3 linked regions of the Homo sapiens genome follow. The protein of the gene in region 1 purifies or fractionates together with the protein of each later gene. This does not show direct contact. Each region holds a gene or a part of one and is shown on either strand. Other genes may lie near its edges.

Evidence for each region. The genes of interacting proteins can lie anywhere in the genome.
Region 2: the proteins of DENND2C (region 1) and ARHGAP42 purify together in Homo sapiens (affinity purification with mass spectrometry; 2 studies listed by BioGRID and IntAct, with this or other methods). This does not show direct contact.
Region 3: the proteins of DENND2C (region 1) and HID1 purify together in Homo sapiens (affinity purification with mass spectrometry; 2 studies listed by BioGRID and IntAct, with this or other methods). This does not show direct contact.

Annotation. Positions count from the first base shown.
Region 1 is NC_000001.11:114,660,037-114,667,063, reverse strand, and holds part of DENND2C (DENN domain-containing protein 2C), read left to right. Parts: intron 1-7,027. UniProt on the Homo sapiens protein: Guanine nucleotide exchange factor (GEF) which may activate RAB9A and RAB9B. Promotes the exchange of GDP to GTP, converting inactive GDP-bound Rab proteins into their active GTP-bound form.
Region 2 is NC_000011.10:100,683,416-100,690,300, reverse strand, and holds the start of ARHGAP42 (rho GTPase-activating protein 42), read right to left. Parts: upstream 3,014-6,885; 5' UTR 2,623-3,013; coding exon 2,469-2,622; exon of another isoform or gene 2,346-2,468; intron 1-2,345. UniProt on the Homo sapiens protein: May influence blood pressure by functioning as a GTPase-activating protein for RHOA in vascular smooth muscle.
Region 3 is NC_000017.11:74,955,747-74,962,773, forward strand, and holds part of HID1 (protein HID1), read right to left. Parts: intron 6,595-7,027; coding exon 6,488-6,594; intron 6,244-6,487; coding exon 6,127-6,243; intron 4,503-6,126; coding exon 4,280-4,502; intron 4,192-4,279; coding exon 4,135-4,191; intron 3,306-4,134; coding exon 3,165-3,305; intron 3,018-3,164; coding exon 2,927-3,017; intron 2,733-2,926; coding exon 2,581-2,732; intron 2,474-2,580; coding exon 2,395-2,473; intron 211-2,394; coding exon 46-210; intron 1-45. UniProt on the Homo sapiens protein: May play an important role in the development of cancers in a broad range of tissues.

The DNA of each region.
Region 1 (7,027 bases):
TGTGTTGTAGTCCATTGTACTGAAGGCCAGGGTGTGTAGAAATGGGTGGTTTGGCTAAAGGAGATGGTGCCTGGAAATAAGATGAAAAAATAAAATTGCAAAGCTTCCTTGCTGATTGCATTAGGATCACTAAAATTGCTAGGTAATGTGGTATTTCACTTCCCTTCATTTGGAACAATGAAATGAGTAATTAGTTCAGTTTGGCAGAATGTTTCACTAAAAAATATGGTGTTAAAGGTACTTTTAATACTTTGAAGTACAAGATATAAGATAACATTACAGACTTAGGTAAGTAAAAAGTTAAGATTTAGGGCCAGGCGTGGTGGCTCATGCCTGTAATCCCAGCACTCTGGGAGGCCAAGGCAGGTGGATCAAGAGGTCAGGAGATCGGGAGCATCCTGGTCAACATGGCGAAACCCCATCTCTACTAAAATACAAAAATTATACGGGTGTGGTGGCGTGTGCCTGTAATCCCAGCTACTTGGGAGGCTGAGGCAGGAGAATCATTTGAACCAGGGAGTCAGAGGTTGCGGTGAGCTGAGGTCGTGCACCTGCACTCCAGCCTGGCAACAGAGTGAGACTGTCTTTAAAAAAAAAAGTTATGATTCAGAAAAAGAGGGAAAAAAGTCTTCTGATGCTAGGTCTTGAAGAGCCAGAGTATCGTGCTAAGGACTTTGGACTTGATTCTAAAGACAATGGAGAGCCAGTGAAGGATTTTAGATATAGGTGTTTAGGAAAGATAAGCTGAAAATGGTTTGGAGGCTGAATTGGATGAAGAGAGACAAAAGGTAGGGAGATAAGTTAGGAGGCTGTTGCTATTGAAATAGTCCAGATAAGGGAGGATAGGGGCCTGGAGTAGGAAAATAGTAATAGGGATGGAGAGGAGAGGATAGATAGTGAAGGTGTAGAATTTGACAGGGCTTTAAAATCAATTGGCTCAAAAGAGGAACAGAAAAGTAAATGACTTAGTTTTTTAGCTTGGAAAACTGTTTGGATGAAGGGTCTTGTTTTATTTTTTAATATTGGAGGAAGATAATTGTTTCCATTTTGAATTCATGTTGAGTTTGAATTGTCTTTGGAGCATTCAAGTGGAGATGTCGAGAGAGGATCTAGAGTCCAGAAGCCAGGCTAAAATTGGTGATTCAGATTTCAGAGGTAGCCAGTAAGTGTTAATTGAAGCCGTAAGAGCAGATGAAATTGCTCAAGGGAGTATGTAGAATTAGAAGAGAAGAGGGCCAAGAATAAATGATTTGCTTTATGTAAGTAGAAGGAATTATTTATCTATGCTAATTTTGTCCAACAAATTATTATTATAAAGCAATGAAATGGATTTTAATTGAAAGTTGAACAACTTTTACATCCAAATGAGTCCTGTTCTTTTAAAATTTCATTTGGAAGTCACTCATTTATTCCAGAAGTACAGATGCTCCTCAATTTTCGATAGGGTTATGTCTGAATAAACCCATCATAAGTTGAAAATATTGTTAGTCAACATGTGATAAACTTACGAAGGGTTTATCCGAATGTAACCCCATCATAAGTTAAGGAGGGTACTGAGCACATACTGCTTTGGCACCATCATAAAGTTGAAAAATTGTTAATTTAAACCATCATTAAGTCAGGGACTGTCTGTATTGCCCAAAGTATTATTGGAGCTTCTCTTTGTAAAAAGCTTTATAGCAAATTCACAGCTACACAAGAACGTAGATCTTCTGGCTTTATTATGGAATTGTTTTTCTGTCTCTTTATTTGCATGGCACATATAACTTATTTACTTTTTTTTTTTTTTTTTCAAGAGACAGGGTCTTGCTCTGCTACCCTGGCTGGAATACAGTGATGCAATCATAGCTCACTGCAGCCTGGACCTCTTGGGCTCAAGGGATCCTCCTGCTTCAGTCTCCTGAGAAACTAGGACTACAGGCATGCACCACCACCCCCTGCTAATTTTTATTTTTTATTTTATTTTTCTTGAGACAGAGTCTCTCTCTGTTGCCCAGGCTGGAGTGCAGTAGTGTGATCTCAGCTCACTGCAACCTCTGCCTCCCAGGTCCAAGTGATTCTCCTGTCTCAGCCTCCCAAGTAGCTGGGACTACAGGCGCACACCACCATGCCTGGGTAATTTTTTGTATTTTTGGTAGAGATGGGGTTTCACCATATTGATCAGGCTGGTCTCGAACTCCTGACCTCAGGTGATCCACCCGCCTTGGCCTCCCAAAGTGCTGGGATTACAGGTGTGAGCCACCACACCCGGCCTGACCCCCTGCTAATTAAAAAACAATTTTTTTTGCCCAGGCACAGTGGCTCACACCTGTAATCCTAGCACTTTGGGAGGCCAAGGCGGTGGGTCACTTCAGTCAGGAGTTTGAGACCCACCTGGCCAACATGGTGAAACCCCATCTCTACTAAAAACACAGAAATTAGCTGGATGTGGTGGCGCGTGTCTGTAGTCCCAGCTCCTTGGGAGACTGAGGCAGGAGAATCACTTGAACCCAGGAGGTGGAGGTTGCAGTGAGCTGAGATTGTGCCATTGTACTCCAGCCTGAGAGACAAGAGCGAAACTCTCCATCTCAAAAAAATTTAAATAAATAAATAAATACATAAATTTTTTTCTTTTGTAGAGATGGGGTTTCACTGTGTTGCCCATTCTGATCTTAAACTTCTGGGCCTAAGCACTCCTTCTGCCTCAGCCTATCCAAGTGTTAGGATTACAGGCATGAGCCACTGTGCCCAGCTTCCGTTCACAATCAATCAAAGCTTCGAAAGCATATTCCTATCCCATCACTGGATCTTTAGTTCTTGGAAGTCATAGACAAAGCTTAAAAAACAACAAAAGACTGTGTCCCCATGCCTATAATCAGCACGTTGGGAGGCCAAGATGGGAAGATCACTTGAGCCCAGGAGTTCTAGACCAGCCTGAGCAACATAAGGAGACCTCGTCTCTACAAAAAATTTTAAAAAATTAGCTGGCATGGTGGCACATGCCTGTGGTCCCAGCCGCTTGGGAGGCTGAGGTGGGAGAATTGCTAGAACCCGGGAGGCAGAGATTGCAGTTAGCCAAGATCGTGCCATTGCACTCCAGCTTGGGTGACAAGACAAAAAAAAAAAAAAAAAAGAATAGCAGTATGGTCTTCTAAGGCAGGGGTTAGCAAATATTCTGTAAAGGGCTAGATAGCAAATATTAATATTTTGTACTTTGTGTGCCATACGGTCTCTGTCATAACTACCCAATTCTGCCAAAAAGCAGCCATAGACAACGCTTCAATGAATAAGCATGGACTGTGTTCCAATAAAACTTTATTTATGGACACTGAAATTTGAATTTCATATAATTTTCACATCACAAAATGTTATACTTATTTGATCTTTCCACCCAACCATTAAAAAATGTAAAAACCACTCTTAACTCAGAGGCCTTGCAAAAACAGGCAGTGGGCCAAATTTGGCCCACAGGTAGGCCATAGTCTGCCAACCTTAACGGATCTTTGAAATATTTGAATTCGTAAGCTTGGTTTAGAAAAAAAAAATCATGGTTCTTCGAAATCATACCTCCTGTTTTTAAATTCTAGTACATTTCTTAAAATAATTAAAACATTTTCATTCATCCCCCATTTCTCATTTAAATGGAAAATACTCCCTTTACTGGTTTGGAACTTTAGATACAGAGAAATAGATTAACTTGTACAGAGTCAGAATAAAAAAGTATGTTTGAAAAATGTTTTTTGATATTCAGTGTTCTTTACTGAATCAATAAAACATTGATCTTTTCGCTTCAGTGAAAGTGGGGACATTGAAACCTGGGTGAAATAAAAGATAAATTTGAAGGGGTATTCTGCACTGGTTCCCAGAGGGTTGGACAGGATGGAATTTTATTCTCTTTTTCTTCTGCCCTGAATGAATAAGTTTTATCCTAAAGAAAAGAAAACATGATAATGTCTTCACTTTATAAGCAGTATAGCAAATTATAAGACTGAAGGATTAAGTAGATGATGATAAGAGAAAAAAATTTAAAGGACTGACTTTTTCACATCTATCTATTCCAGGTATTTACCCATTTTTTTCCTTCCTCCCTTTCCTTTTCCCTCTTCCTTCTTCCTTTTCCTTTTCTTTTCTTGGTCTTTCTCTGTCACCCAGGCTGGAGTGCAGTGGCACAATCATAGTTCACTGCAGCCTCCAACCCCTGGGCTCACACGATCCCTCCACCTCAGCCTCCCAGTTAGCTCGCATTACAGGTGCACGCCACCAAGACTGGCTAATTTTTTAAAAAACTTTTTGTAGAGATGGGGTCTCAATACGTTGTCTAGGTTGGGCTTGAACTCCCGACCTCGGGATCCTCCCATCTCAGCCTCCCAAAGCGCTGGGGGTACGAAGCCATTATGCCTGGCCCCTATTTTTGAGGAATAAATTCAAGATTTTTTTTTTTTTCTTATGAATCTTAGACTTCTGGTTAGTGGCGTGAAAACAGAGTTTTTAGCATTTAGTTCTGGCAATATTAATCCATTTATATTATTTGAAGGTTGTGCTGTACTTTTTAAAGTTAAATGTCTAACTTTCGTAGTTTTCATAGCAGTGATAAATATTTACAACAAAGGATATGGAGAGAAATTATTATTTTTTTTCCTTCAAGTTTGAATTCATAGAAATGACATATTTGCGGATTTTTTGTTTGGATGTTAAAATTCAGGGACAGATTGGTGGGGGAGAGAGAGAGTTATTTTTGCTGCTACTTAAAAGGGATTTGCATTTTTCTCTGTCTTTTTTTCTGTTGGAGTAAAAAACAAAATCTCCCAGCTGTGTGGGATGTGTTTGAATTGGTTACTTAGCAGTGTAAAGCATAATTTTGTATTTAAATATTTATCTGTACTCTTTGATATTCTGATTAAATAAGGATCTATTAAGGCTATAATAATAGAGCCTTCTGTGAGGAAATGACATAGGCTGCTCCACAACAGTATTTACTGAAAATTTCCTTTTCCCTGGGCCCTATTTAAACTATAAGGGGTAATTGGAACAAAAGGGGAAAATTATGTGAATTAGAGTGATGGTCAATTTAATCATGAGTGTAATGTGATAGCTATCAATGTATAGTTTTATTGACATAAATCAGGGTTGAGCAAAGAGTGGGAGAATTTTGTCTGCTGTTGTTAAAAATGGTGAGTCGTTGAACCAAATTTTATTTTTGAACTTTGCATTCGTCAAGTGTGATATTTTCAAGAGTCTGGTGATAATTGTATTTTTAAATCAAATTGGATCAATTTGCCTTTCAAATTTGTTGTTTCATTATTAGAAGAAAAAAACGAAGTAAAAAATACAGAGGTATGTGCAATGACTGGATCTGGAAGAACAAAAATATTGAGGGAAATGGTCACCTGAGAAAAACTATTAAGACTTTCAATGAAGATTATTTAAAATATGGCTTTGTCAAATGGGCAAAATCTGAGTAAAATGACAGACCCATGTCTTCATATAATGTTGCAAATGAAAATTAAAAACCTTTAAAGTTAAAAAGATTCTTGGAAACATAGCATACTGGACTTTTAAATAAGCCCTTTCAAATATTTTCAAAGAAAGAAAAAGAGATAAAGTTATCTCAGTTTCCTATTTATTCAAGAATCATTCCTGAGAAAGATTATTGTCTCATTTAGTTGTGTATCAGTGGCATAAGGGAAAAATGGCTACATATCTCTTGAAAAAAGTATTCATCTATAATTCATGGAAGTTGTGCTCATGATTTTTGATGCTAAATCAGCTGGAAATTAAAAATTATACTTCTTAGTGATGACATAGCTCTATTCTTTACCATTATTGGACATTTCAGCAGTGCTTGCAAGATGGGTAGAGTCTGGTGCAGATTTTGCAATCCAAATCGATGGGGTCGCTGATATTGTAAGTTGTACTGTGCTTTTAGGTAGTGAAGATAATAAGGAGGATTTTCTTTTCTTTTTTTTTTTTTTTTTTTTGAGACGGAGTCTCGCTCTGTCGCCCAGGTGCACAGTGGCACAATACCGGCTCACTGCAACCTCCGCCTCCCGGGTTCAAGCGATTCTCCTGCCTCAACCTCCTGAGTAACTGGGATTACAGGTGCGAGCCACCATGCCCGGCTGATTTTTGTATTTTTAGTAGAGACAGGGTTTCACCATGTTGGTCAGGCTGGTCTCAAACTCCTGACCTTGTGATCTGCCTGCCTCGGCCTCCCAAAGTGCAGGGATTACAGGCATGAGACACCACGCCCGGCAGGATTTTCTTGTTGTTTAAATTTAACCACAGCTGTATGGGTATATTTACAGAATTTTAAAAAATAAATTGTTGATCCTCAGAAATTAAACTGGGAAAAAACTATTAAATAATTATGAGCAATTGAATAGCAAATGTGGTTAGAAAATATAAAGCAGTTATTTTAAGCATTGTTTGAAGCTGCTACTAACAGTGTTCCCTCCCCCTGTCCAGCCTCCCGTGCAAGTCTCACAGTGTGTTTTAATGAGTATCTCCTCAAAGCACCTTCCAACACTCAAGGGGAGGGAGGGAATTAGAGACAGGCAAACTTACAGCCAGTAGTCAAAACAATACAGCTGAAAGTATAGACATCCTCCTGCTTTCTTCTGAATGTCCAGGGCAGCAGGAAAGCTTGGAGCTTTCCCTCCAGCAAAAACAATAGGCTGGGTGTGGGTGAACATACTGTCCAGCAAGTCACTGCTGGGCTCCGTTTCTGTCCTGTTTGTTCTAAGGGCTAAGAATGGTGTTTGAAACTGCTGTTTTATATATTGCAAAGCTTTGGTATGCACAGAAAACTTTCTGAATCTCATGAATATATTGAAAGTTGTTAATTATATTAAAGGAAGCTTGCTGAGTAACCAACATTTTAAAATATTCAGAGTTAACTGTACCTATTTACTATATCACATTGGAGTTTGATAGTTGAGATAAGGAGCTAAGCAGATTTTATGAATCCAGAATTTTTCTAGCTGAGAGGCAATCTCAGTCAGGCATGGTGGCTCATGCCTTTAATCCCAGCACTTGGAAGGCTGAGGCT
Region 2 (6,885 bases), on another chromosome or scaffold:
GGTTACATTAAGAATGCATTAATTATTAATAAAAATAACAGTGCCGTGCTAAAAAAACTGAAACGGGTAATGGATACATCTATTGAAATAGTCTATATAAAGTTAGGGAAGGTGAAGTCCTCCCCAGGCAGGAAAGAAAAACAGAAAAGACAGACTGGGGGAAGAAGGACTCCCTTAGTGGAGTGGGCAGACTTATGGTACAGGGACGCTCCCACAGTGGAATGGTCAGCCCCATGGTACAAGCACTGCCAGCTATGCCAGGGGACATGTCTGGGCTAGTGGTCAGGGCAGGGGCAGCCAGTGATAGAACCAAGCAGGCTTCAAATCCTTTCTGACACACTCCTCCTATCCAAGCAGCTGCAGCCCAGCCTCAGAGCATCCTTCCTAAGGGACAAAAGGTGGCTTGGTACGAAAAAAATCAGTGCTACAGTGTGACTTCAAGGGTTCCTTTGCTCCAAAATCCCTCCCATTTGGCAGCTGCTGTTAGGAATCCTTTTACCAAGGAATAAAATCTTTTCCTTTTCACAATGAAAGAAGTAATAATCAAACGTTAGTTAAAGTAATACACTCTCACCACAAACTTAAGAATCCTAGAAAGATAGCAGGTTGTATAATTAAGTGCATAAGCCAAATTAATGATGCAGGGCCTATATCTTCAAAGAGCCTACGCTCCCAAGATTTCTTCACTTATGAATGGAAGAACAAAACTATAATGATGGGAATCACCTGACTTTTACAAAGCTAGATTCAACCATCATAATAAAGTATGTAATGTCACTCGTAATATAATGTACATGTCAGAGCATTTATCACAGGTATGTAAGTATTTTGACCTTCTGAAACACTAAAGTTTATCTCAAGCAGAGCGGGGAGAAAAATGTAGAATATCTGGCACCTCCAACAAGAACTGGCTTGGCATTTGACACTCTGAGATGCAGCTCTTTTTGAAGAGGCATCATGCTCTCTTAGATGCAAAGAGGTTAGTCCCGCGAGACTTTAACCAGGATTTGCAAGCCAGAGGAAGGACAGTTCACATTAGTGTTTATGTAGGGTGGCAAGAATTGCAGACAAACTATATTTTTCACAAATCACAGTAAATACCATTATTAGTAGTAGCCTCAAATTCAGAAATTAAGTGAATATGGGCATAAAATATATTATCTTTACCTTGGTTAAGTAACACAAGTGGTTAAGTAAATGTTTTAACATTTGGGATGATTAAAAGATATTTTGGAGCACATTAATTTCAAGACATCTTGCTAAGCTCTCTCCTTACTGTTAATACATGTTTCAAAATATAGATCCGATACTAGTATTGTCTCAGTTTTAGGCGCACACATCCCTATCATGTTGTTATACAAAGATGATGCCCCCATATATGTCCTGGGGGTAACTAGATCACCCAAAGGTCTCTCTACCTTTTGAAAGTACCTCACTCACCCAGCTTTAAGTGACCAGAGATTCCACGGCTTCATTTCAGTAGCTAAAACATCCAGAAGCCTCTATTAAGATGCAAATACTTTTCACAGGCTCCTTTGAAGATGGAAAATAAATAAATACATAAATAAATAAAAATAAATTTTTTAAAAGATGCAAATACCTCCTGGGAAAGGTAACAAGCCATATCATGTAATTGTGCTCAATTCTCTGTAAGAGAAACTCTTCAGTTTCAGATACTCTTAGGTCTTAGGAATTGAAAGCTAAGATCCAGAGGATAAAAGGAGGAAGGAAAATTTGATCAAGAGGTGTATGGGAAAGGAGGTGGAAGAAGCCCTATATTATAGACTATAACAGTCTTTATATTCTACAGATCATCAAAAGTTCTGATTGGCCTTTAACCCCTTAACTTTCATCCCAATGACACACCCAACACCCACACAATGCAAACCAAAACTAAGACGCACAGAAAACTTGCAGAGTTAAAATGCACTGGTGCCTTGCTGTCTTCCATTATCTTACAAAATGGCAAAACTGCAAATGTATGCTTTTTAAAAAGCCAACTCAATGACTGTGTCCAATGAAGAGCCACTGACGTATGAGAGACATTAATAATTTTCTTTCAATATCACTAAACTAGCCTAATTTTATCTTTAAGACAAACTCTTGATTCCCCCCTTAAGGGCTTTTTTAGTTCAAACTATTAATAGACACAATAAATTAAAAAAAAAAAATTAAAGTCCCCAACATCTTCCTAGGAGCATTACACAACGAGATGACTTTGAACGACTTTCCTCAGGATATATTCCAGTGCCCTGTAGAGAACTTTCCCCATCCCTGTAGACATGTGAGTAAGTAAAGAACACCTCAAGAACAAACTTTGTTGGCCACCAGCAGGGGAGCTCTTCAGCTTTTGTCCCCAAATCCATTCAAACAAAAGAAGCTCCGACTCCTCCAACCCACCCTTCGGACCCGCACCCCGCGGGGACTCTCCAGATGCGGGTGTCCACTCCCCCGCCAGCCCTACTTACTCCTCAACGCCCCAATGAGCAGAGAGCCGTCCTTAATGAGCTCCTTGATGAACTTGTTGGTTCGCTCCAGCTCAATCTCGTGACACTGCAAGCGCTCCCTGAAATCTGGGCTGTCCAAGTAGGAATCGCTGAACTCCAGAGTGGGCAGCCCCATGGCACAGGCGCTGCCAGCGGCGGCCGCGGACACGTCCGGGCCGGAGGTCAGGGCGGGGGCAGCCGGCGGCCGCGGCGGGCGCTGGGGTCGCGCGATCGCGGGGAAGGCGCCGGGACGCGAGGGGACTGATTGCGCGGAGGAAACGGGCCCCGAGCGCCGCGCCGCCTGCGCCGGGCTCAGTCTTCCTCCCCCGAGGCTAGGCGAGCGCAGGCGCGGGCGGCGGGCCGAGGCGCGAGTCCCCTCAGGTTGTTGTCATCTGGACGCATCGTCGTTCGGAACGCGGGGGCGGCGAGGCTCCGGGCCGCGGCCGGAGCAGGAAAGTTTCTCTCACGGCGCGCAGACACTTCCGGCAGTTCCACTCCCCAACTCTCTTGACAGTCGTCGGCGTTGTGAGCCAGAAGCAGCGCACAGCCGCAACTCCGGCCGGGCTGGGGAAACCCTCCCCCTCGGCGGACGCAGGCTCAGAGCGCTTGCAAATCGCACCCGGGCTCCCAGACCCTCCTCCCCGCCGCCGCGCTCCCACCCAGCGCCACCCCGCCCCTTCGCCCCTTTGCCCTCCTGCCCCACCCGTCCGCCCGCACTGGGCTCCAGGGCTCCCCGCGCTGCAGCCCCGCGCTTGCGCTCCGGCCTTGGCTGGGGTGTTAGCCCTGTCCCCTCTTGGGCCCCTGGTTTCGGCTAGCCCTTGGTGACACTTCGGGGTCCCTCGCTCCACAAAAGGATCTGACTCCCAATATACCTCCCCTAACAGTGTCCCCTCCACCCACTCCCTACAATTCTCTGGGAGAAAAACCAACGTTAAGTTTCCCTAAAGTCTGAGTATTTTGAAGCGTAGATGGAAGATACTACTGTCTAGCGTTCGTTTAGATTTTACTTCACACTTCCCCACCGAATGCATTTGAATTCCACGTTGAAAAATTGTCCCGTCGCTCTCCCACCCCTCAGCTTCAATGATCCAGCCTGGAGGTGTTTCTTCCCCCTGCCCCCACTCCATAGCTGGGAAGGTGGGACGATTTTTCAAGTCATCCTCACTCTGCTTACGTGCTCCTACTTCTAGTAGAATACCTATTTGCATCACAATAGTAGTATCTCCTATTGGCACCTGGATGGAATTGTCCTAGGAGCGGGAAAATTTTCAAATTGTTGAAGTGGACTGGAGTTTGAAATAAATAGTTAACTCCTACCCACAGGCTTTATCCTTCCTCCGGTGGAGGTTCACCTAATAAATTTCTGTTCTCTTAAAACCTTGACAGCAAAAGAAACGACTGCTTTACATCTCGTCCTGACATCATCTATAGGATTTCTGAGAACTCGGATATTGTTCTTAAGGATCTGCTTTTAATTTCTGCATTTTCATTGCTTTGTCCATATGAACCATCTGTTTAAAAACTATTCTACAGATCATGGGAAAAATTCCACTAAAGTGCTTTACATTTTTCCCAATTAAGTTTCAGAGCCAGTCAAGATTCTTGGTTTCAATTTTTTAAATGTACAGGAACATTAAAAATAACATGTAAACCTAAAACAGATAAGATAATGTAAACAGTATGGGCCAGGCGCAGTGACTTAACGCCTGTAATACCAGCATTCTGGGAGGCTGATGCAGGAGAATCACTTGAGGTCAGGAGTTGGAGACCATACTGGCCAACACGGTGAAACCCAGTTTCTACTAAAAAATACAAAAATTAGCTGGGCCTGGTGGCGCACGCCTGTAGTCCCAGCTACTTGGGAGGCTGAGGCAGGAGAGTCACTGGAATCCGGGAGGCGGCGATTGCCATGAGCCGAGATTACGAGATTACTCCACCGCACTCCAGCCTGAGTGACAGAACGACTCCATCTCAAAACACCTTCCATCCATATTCACATCTTTGGCCCCATATTGGCAAAATGACCAGTCACTATTAGAGCCATTTTAACTCCAAGTGTTAAATTTGTTTTTGTTAACTAAATACTCTTCAATTTTTTTTTTCTTTTGCAGGTTTGGGGAAGGGAGAGGCAGTAATTCTGTTTGTCAGTTAATGAAATGACATGACATAAACACCAGTGGACTGTGTCTCACCAGAGGTGATTTTGTATTTACTCATTACTCTGCCTGAAAGACAAAAAATCACCCAGGCCAAACAGTTTCCTTTCAACTTTTGCCATGTTGCTGTTCCTATCAACTGAATCCAGTGCCAAACTGCTGAGATACGAAACGATAAAATATAACATTCTCTTCTTGTTTTTCATTAAATCATCGTACTGTGATTAAGTCTTTAAAAATGCATCATTGGTGTTTCATAAGTTGCATTTAATATGTTGGATGTCAATGTTTAGTTTTCTTTAAAAGTGTTACATGCCAGGGCAGATGTATTGTACATTCTATGATACAGGTTATCATTTGCCCATTCATGTATGTAATGATATGTTTTATGTCTACTGTCTACATTACTAAGGTCTGGGTGGGGAAGTGATTTCTATAAAAAGACAGAAGCATTATCCGTGACCTCAAGCAGTTCTCAGAAAAAGGAAATGTGGAAAATAAGTACCCATAAAGCATAAGGCAGAATATGCTGTGTTCCACAGCCTCACACAGATGCTGTACTAATAATACATTGATGCTATTGTTTATCAATATGTTTCCACTCAGGCCCATCATTGCATTTACATGGAATTAGGATTTTTTCTCCTACCCTTCACTCATGATTCCCTAAAGTTTATCATGTTATAATGGGCTTATTTCTTGTAGGTGTTTTCATAGTTACTCATGCTTATTCCTATGATTCATACTTTAATTATACCTGCTAGTCAGGCTTTCTCTTATGCCACATTAACACAGCTACTTGAGAAAAACCAGAAATGCTTTTGCTTTGAGGTGGGTTTACTGTCGGTTTTGAACTGTTGTTTCCATGCATGATTCTCTCCATCATAATTAACTGAACCAGATTCTTTCCTAGAGAATAGACTTTCTATATAAAAGATCAGCAATACCTGCAAGCCTGTTTTCATAAACAAATGTAATGGATTGAAATATAGCCTGTCCAGAAATTTCCACTTCATAACACATGACACCGTAAGCTGCGTGGTAAGCTTCGCAAATATTATTGGCTGACAGGCTCTTTGGCACAGAGAAATGTCTCTTTGTTTTCCTGATTCTGGAATGGGATATGTGGGCTTTGTTTACTTGCTTTTGAGAGCAAATAGATAGTAGAGGATAGTAAACTAATATGGCATTTGTAAATCTGCCTAAAACTGTTTCTTGACGTAGATCATGTCTGACACTTAAGCCTGGCACTTCGTATGTACTCAGTAAGTGTTATTGTCAAGCTATTATTACTTTTCAATTAATTATGTAGATTTAGACCACCCAGACTCAGCTGATCTGAGGTTAAGTTCAAGCCTGGTAAGAGATGACTAAACAGAAACCAAGTGTTTCTTCTTGGTTTCCCCTCCTCCCAGCTCCTGGTAACCATTGTACTTTCTGTCTCTATGAATTTGACAATGTAGGTATCTCATATAAATGAAATTATACAATATTTGCACAATGTGTCTGTCTTATTTCACTTAGATGATTCAGTCATCAAAAAGAGAAGCAAAGAAGAAATAAGAATTAGATATACATTTAAAACCCATATGAGGAGCCAGGCCTGGTAGCTCAGCCTGTAATCTCAGCACTTTAGGAGGCCCAGGTGGGCATTTCACCTGGAGTTCGAGACCAGCCTGGCCAACATGATTAAACCCCATCTCTACTAAAAATAGAAAAATTAGCTGGGTGTGGTGGTGTGCACCTGTAATCCCAGCAGGTACTAGGGAGGCTGAGGCACGAGAATTGTTTGAAGCCAGGAGGCAGAGGTTGCAGTGAGCCAAGGTTGTGCCACTGCACTCCAGCCTGGGCAATGGAACGAGACTCTGTCATCTTAAACAGATAAAAATTTTAAAAAACCCAAAACAAATAAACAAAAAGAAACAAGCATTTGAACCTACTTAATTTTTGACTTAATTTTCTAAAATACTCTTCTGACAGCCAAAAAATGAAGTTCAGATTAAGCCCTTAGAGGGCGAGATCTTTTTATTCTGCCTTATTAGAAGTATTATTATTGTCACACACAATGCTCTTAACATCACTATTTCTCAAAAAATTAGTTGGTGTATGACACTGCATTTCTGATGGGCAAATGTACACATCATTAGTGACAGGAGCCTATGTGACTTAGTAACATTGTCTTTTCCAGTTTAAAAAAAATGCTCTCACAAATTGTAGAGCCCCTCTCAAATGCATACAGCTCT
Region 3 (7,027 bases), on another chromosome or scaffold:
CCCGCTGGCCACCCTGACCACCAGGGCCTCAGGCTGGTGCCTCACCATCAAACTGGTACTGGATGATGTTGTTGAAGACCTCCAGGAGGAAGAAGACCAGGTGGTGGTTCTGGGCGGCAGAGAAGAGGAACCAGGTGGTGGAGAAGGCCTCCAGCAGGTGCAGCAACTTGTTGGCAGTCACCATGGACAGGCTCTTGAGGTAGGGGGACACTGTAAGGGAGGGGTCAGCTCACTCCTGGGCCCCTCAGCCAAGCCATCCCTGCACATCCTGGGCCGGGGTGGAACAACAGGCTCCTGCTCTCAATCCCTCCCTGCCCCCTGCAGAGCCAGGACGACCAAGGCCCTAAGAGGCTGAGTCCACACTGGCCATACTGTGTGCAGAGTCCTGGGAGGCAGTTAGGCCCCACCCTCACCCCTCGACCATGAAGACAGCTGTCCTGCTTATAAAGCCATACACATCCCACCCATGCCAGTCCCCCCCATACCACGAGGGAGGCAGGACACAGACAAGATCATCCCCATTTTACAGACATGGAAACTGAGGCTCAGAGAAGGTTGTAAACTTGGCCCAAGTTCCCCAGTAATGAAATGATCGGGCAGGGATACAAACTCAAGACTTTAAATCTTTCTAGAACGTCAAGCTGCCATGTCACTAGAGGTGTATTTTGGGACCCAACCCTGGGGGCACACCCAGACTGAAGTTCCATGCTGATCTGAACACTTCCTTGTCTTGTGTCATTTTCCCTCACTAGGCTGAGGGCTCCACAGGGCAGGGACCAGGGCTGTCTTGGTCACAAGTGTGTTCTCGGAACCAGCTCAGTTAAGATTTGTGAGATGGAGCCAGAGAGTGAACCAGGAGGGGAAGGGACAGTCCTGACCCCAAAGCTCACAGCCCAGCTAGAGGCCTCTACCACCGCACACTACCCACCCTGCAGTCTAAACCAGAACACAGACAGACCAGCCACCCCTAGCCACAACCATCCTCTCCAAAAGATGTTCACACTGAAGGCATTTTGCCCCAGCCCATGGCCACCTGCCTTGCTAGGTCCTGAACCCCAGGGAGCCTGGCTCCTTCTGCTTCCTCTCCCCAGCAGCTGTGTGCAGTCCTTGCTGGGTGGGGGTAGGGGCTGGACAGGGAGGACAAAGGCAGAAAGGGTGGGGCCTCCACATCCCCATACACTGTGACTCCAAATGTCCAAACCTGCACTGCCCAACACAGTGGACATCAGCCACGTGTGGCCATTTCGTGCTTGAAACACAGCTAGTCCTAACACGTGTGCTGCACATATGAAACACACAAGAGGCCAGACACAGTGGCTCACGCCTGTATAATCCCAGCACTTTGGGAGGCTGAGGCAGGAGGATCATTTGAGCTCAGGAGTTCAGGACAAGCCTGGGAAACATAGTGAGATCCCGTCACTATAATTAGAAATAAAATGAAATATGGCCGGGTGTGGTGGTTCACACCTGTAACCCCAGCGCTTTGGGAGGCCAAGGCAGGCAGATTGCTTGAGGCCAGGACTTCAAGACCAGCCTGGCCAACATGGCAAAACTCTGTCTCTACTAAAAATACAAAAAAAAAAAAAAAATTAGCCAGTTGTGGTGGCACATGCTGTGATCCCAGCTACTTGGGAGGCTGAGGCATGAGGATCACTTAACCTGGGAGGTTGCAGTGAATGGAGATTGTGCCACTGCACTCTAGCCTGAGCAACAGAGAGTGAGACTCTGTCTTAAAAATAAAAAATAAAATAAAATAAAATAAATAAATAAATAAAGTAAAAATGTTATCGGACTACCAGTGGCTCCCATAAACTGGGCTAACCTCCTTCAGATGTCAAAAAAAATTGTTAAATTTTTTTTTTTTAAAAAAAGGCCAGATGCAGTGGCTCATGCCTGTAATCCCAGCACTTTGGGAGGCTGAGGTGGGCATATCATCTGAGGTCAGGAGTTCGAGACCAGCCTGGACAACATGGCAAAACCCCGTCTCTACTAAAGATACAAAAATTAGCCAGGTGTGGTGGCACACGCCTGTAATCCCACCTACTCAGGAGGCTGAGGCATGAGAATTGCTTGAACCCAAGGGGCGGAGGTTGCAGTGAGCTGAGATGGTGCCACTGCACTCCAGCCTGGGCGACAAGACTGAGTGTGAGAAGGGAATATTAAATATCTCATTAGTAATTTTCATATTGGCTACATGTTGAGATGATGATAGATAAAACATATTATTCAATTGTTGTCACCCTTTTTTTTTAATGTGGCTACTATGAAGGGTACACAAGCTTGCGTTCTTTCTGTGGGCTGGAGGGGCTTGAAACCTGGAGCAAGTGGCAGGTTGGCCTGTGGCCTGACACCACCTGGTGGTGAGCGCGGGGAGTGCAAGCTCCGGGCCCCTACCGTTGACCACGATGGTGAGCAGGCAGTCGAAGAGGGGCTGCAACCGCTGGTGCCCGCTGGTGATGATCTTGTGGAACACCTGTGCCAGGAGGGACAGAGGCACCGTGGGGTCCCCGCTGCCTCCAGACTCAGCCAAGAGGACACCACCCCTGCACCTCCTGGGCCCGGCCGCACGAGCCCCCTCACCACAATGAGCAGGTCGGCGTGGGTCCCTGTGAAGACTGGGATGTCCATGGGCACGCGGATTGAGTAGGGTTTGTTCAGCCGCACCCCGAAGTTCCGCTCCCCGCTCAGAAGCAGCAAGATGAAGACACCAATGTGCATCAGGCCCACCCGAGCTGCGGCAGGTGGCGTGGGAGGGGTCACTCGGGTGGGAGGGGGAAGGAGGGGCCCAGGCAGTGACCATTTTGGAGGCCTCCCTCCTAGGAGGTCAGAGTGCCAGGCCTGAGCTCCTGGGAGTCAGGGCAGATAGCCAGCCCTCCACCTCGCCGCCAGGAAAGCCCCCAGCATCCCACCCCCACCCTGGTCTTACACTGATCGGCCCGGGCATCGTTGAGGAAGAAGAGGATGGGGACAAGGATGTCTAGGACGTCGCTGCTCTTCAGCACGAAGAAGAGGAATTTCTAGGGGTGCGGGGAGGGGCCAAGTGGGCTGAGTTCAAGGGAGGGGCAGCTCTGCCCCACCCCCCTCAGTCTGACACTGTCCCTGCCCCCGGGTTATTGGGGCAGCTGCTCTCCATCTCCCTGCAGGGCCCCTCGAGGCTGGCCCACCTTGTTGAAGTCGCAGAGCTTCCAGAAGAGAACTAGCAGCTCCTGGTGGAACTGGATCTTCTTGGTGGAGTTAGGCAGGTAGGTCTGGAGCAGGGGGTTGGACAGCAGCCGGGCTATACCCTTGAGGATGAACTGGAAGTCCTGGGGGCGAGGGCAGAGCAGGGGGCCTGTCCAGCCCAATCCCTGCAGCTCCAGTTTCCCAGCCCAGGCCCCCAACAAATCCCCCCCTCCATCCCCCAGAGCCAGATCCCACCTCCAGAGCCAGAGGGCCCAGATGCTATCACCCATAGCTGTCCTGGGGCGATGCCTCAGGAAGCGGAGTCCCTCATAGCTGTGGACAGCCCTGGCCCCTCCACTAGACTGCAGACTCTCTGTCCTTGGGCTGTGCGCCCCTTGAGCAAGGCTGCTGCTCTCAGTGAACTCCCACACATGCACACCCTCAACCTTGTCCCTGCCCACCTTGGACTCATGGTTGGCAGGTTCCATCCTTCTACCCCTCCCCAAAATACTCCCCCATCACCCCATCACAACTCGAGGAGCATTCCACTGTTCTGTCATTTACTGAGGCCTGCCACTAGCTGGGGTGAGAAGGCAGCTAGGGTCCTGTGTTTTAGCTGCAGAAGTTAGAACTCTGGGAGTTCAAGCACCTTCCCACCAAGATCACAAGACACATGAACTGGGACTGCTTGGCCTGAAGCCCTTGTCCACTGTCATTCCCCTTTTGTCCCCACCACCTCTGAAATGACATCAGCCACCTCCTCCTAGAGGCCTTCCCAGTTACCTCTACCCAGGTGAGGCCATCAGCCCTTCCTGCATCTTGAAACCCTCACAGTCCTGCCACTATTTCACCTAGGGTGGCCCCAGCCCACAGAGAGCATGGTTCCTTCATGGAGGGGTCAGGATCCCCCATATCCCTGTCTCACTTGCATCCCCCTGCACCCTGCAAAGCCACTGTGGGGACTGGACTTGCCTCCTCACGATGGATGCGGGACAGGTAGTTCACAAACAGGTTCTCAGGGCCTGGAGGCTGCCAAGAGGAGAAGCCCCTGGTGAGCAGGCGTCCTCCCCACAACCCGTGGCCCCGGCAGCTGTCCCTTCCATGCTCCCATCCTTACATCGGCATCATCCATGGCGGTGCCAGTGGTGGTGCCGTCCACAGTGGGGCTGGCACTGCTGGCACTGTCGTGGTCCAAAGTGACAATGAGCACCTGGGCAGCCTCCTCCACCAGGGGTTCCCGGTAGTCAGAGAAGAGCAGGTGGTTGTAGGGGATCCCGTAGCCCACAGGGTCATAGGCACACACGGTGTTGAGGAGGGAGGTGAAGAGGGGCAGGGCATGTCTGCAGCAGGAGAGGGACAAGGCTGCAGAGGCTGCACTGGGGCCCAGCCCCCTGGCCACACCTCTCTGGCCACGTGGGAAGGTCAGCCTCATTCAACAAGCATTTTAGCACCACGTCAGGGAGTGGCTTGGAAAGAGTGGGTGTGGGAAGCCCAGAGCCATGATTAGGACACATTCATACCCCTTAGGGTCTTAAGGGGCAGATACCCTCCCTTGGGTCCTCAGAGATGGGAATGGAGGCCTGTGGAGAAGGTGGGCTTCCCCTCAGGGAGCAGAGCCCACGCTCAGCCAACCAGCTCCCAAGCCACAGAATGACTCCACTCAGACTCAAGAGATGTCAGGGTTCAAGCTGCTCAGCTTACAGATGAGGAAGCTGAGACCCAGAGAGGTTAAGTGAGGGACAAAGGGTGGCAGTTTGCCTGATAAGGCTGGTGAGAAAGAAAACTCTGGCCAGCCTCGGACTGTGGCTGGTGGAGGGGGTCGCCTGGCTCCCTTCTCTTCTGGAGTAGGGTGGAAGGTTGAACAGAAGGCTAGGAAACCTGAAGAATAAGGCGTGTCATGTAGGGACCAGAGTCTGGAAGGCGGAGGTCGACCGCCACCTGCCGGGCACAGACCCTATGCAGCCAACACAGCTCCCAGTGGGAGCTACCTGCTCAAATACTCAACTCTGCCACGTGGCACGTGTGACACCCTCCCCCCACCCCGTGCTCACGTGTCCCCCACAGTCCATGAGTGCCCCATGTGGGCTGGGCCTCCCTGCCCTTCGAGGTATTTGTCACACACTCCCCGACCCGGTCTCTAAGCTGCAGAGTCCCACACAGCAGCCTCAAGCCACAAGGAGCTGTCGAGCCCTTGGAATGTGGCTGATCGGAACCAAGACAAATACACACTGGATTTTGAAAACTTAGTATGAAAAGGGGGATGTCAAACAGCTCAGTAATGTTGTATACTGATTCCATGTTAAATGCTAAAGTTTGGGGTATATTGGGTTATATGAAATATATTATTAATTATTGTATTTATTTATTTTTTTTTTTGGAAACAGAGTCTCACTCTGTCACCCAGGCTGGAGCGCAGTGGCGCAATCTCGGCTCACTGCAACCTCCGCCTCCCGGGTTCAAGCGATTCTCGTGCCTCAGCCTCCCGAGTAGCTGGGATTACAGGCACCCGCCACCAAGCCTGGCTAATTTTTGTATTTTTAGTAGAGATACGGTTTCACCATGTTGGCCAGGCTGGTCTGAAACTCCTGACCTCAGGTAATCTGCCCACGTTGGCCTCCCAAAGTGCTGGGATTACAGGTGTGAGCCACCGCGCCTGGCCCAATTTTACTTTTTAACTTTTTTAATTTTAAAATTGCACTCGTGGTTTGCATTCTATTTCTACTGGACAGGCGGCTCTTGATGGAGGACCCAGGGACGGATTACTGAGGGGCCCCCAGATTCTGTCCTGTCGAGGACTCCAAGGAGAGACGGGGCTAGTGTGAGGTGTGGCTGGTAAGTTAAAGTTCATCACCACCAGGGGGCAGCACCTCCCCTCAAACGAGACCCAGAGCTGGCGAATGGACTCAGCTCTGGATTGCCTGGAATAAGAGGGAAGAGAGCGCAGAAAGGCCAAGGGCCCTTCACCTGTTCTCCGTGGAACAAAAGAACTGAACCCATGGGTTGGTGCTGCCACTTTCCGGAGCTGGGGGCAGGTACATGGCCTCGGAGAAGCATGTCAGCAGCAGTTTCAGCAGCTCCATCCTTGTAGGAGGAAGGGGGAGGGCACCTTAGGATCCCAGTCCCCTCTTGGAGGTTCTGCCCACCCAGCCCAGCGCCCCAGCCCAGGTCCATGGAAGGAAGTTACTCCCGTTGACCCCTGTAAGGTCAAGGTCGGGTCATAGGTGAGGACGGTCTTCTGGGAAGACCCCATGGGCTTTCTGAGCTGTGCGGGGGCCCGGCCCGGGGTCCAGCTGCATTGAGGGCTCCGGGCCTGGGCGAAGCTCACCGGTTCATATCGTGGATGTAGTTAGGCTGGGGGGAGTGAGCGAAGCCCACACCAGCCTCCCAGATGTATTCACAGCTGTCCAGGGAGTGGACGTCCTCTGCCGAGTCCTGGGGACAGGCCAGGAAGAAGCCGGGTTAGGGGGTCGAGAGGTGAACAGCAGCCTGGGTCAGAACCTGGCCACCTCGAGCCTCACACAGTCCCAGGGGCAGAGACCGCCAGTTCTCCTAAAGACAGGTCCTCAAAATGGCCTGGCCCTCATGCACAAGAGCAGGAGTGAATATTCTTAGGCCTCTTGAAAGCTCATTTTTCTTCCATCTCAGACTGGTTCTTTCACTTGCTCAGTCCAGTTTGGGACAGGGAGAAAGGGAGGGAGGGGCAGGGGATTGGGTGCCCCGGGTTTGGGGGTGGGCAGAGAAGACTCAAGGTGAAGTCCATGCCACCACAGGAAGCAAGAGGGCCAGCCCTCCTGTGTCTGAGCCCCACACCCCTGGGCAAGCAAAGACAATGGGTGTCTGTGCCCAGCCATCCGAACGCAGCGGG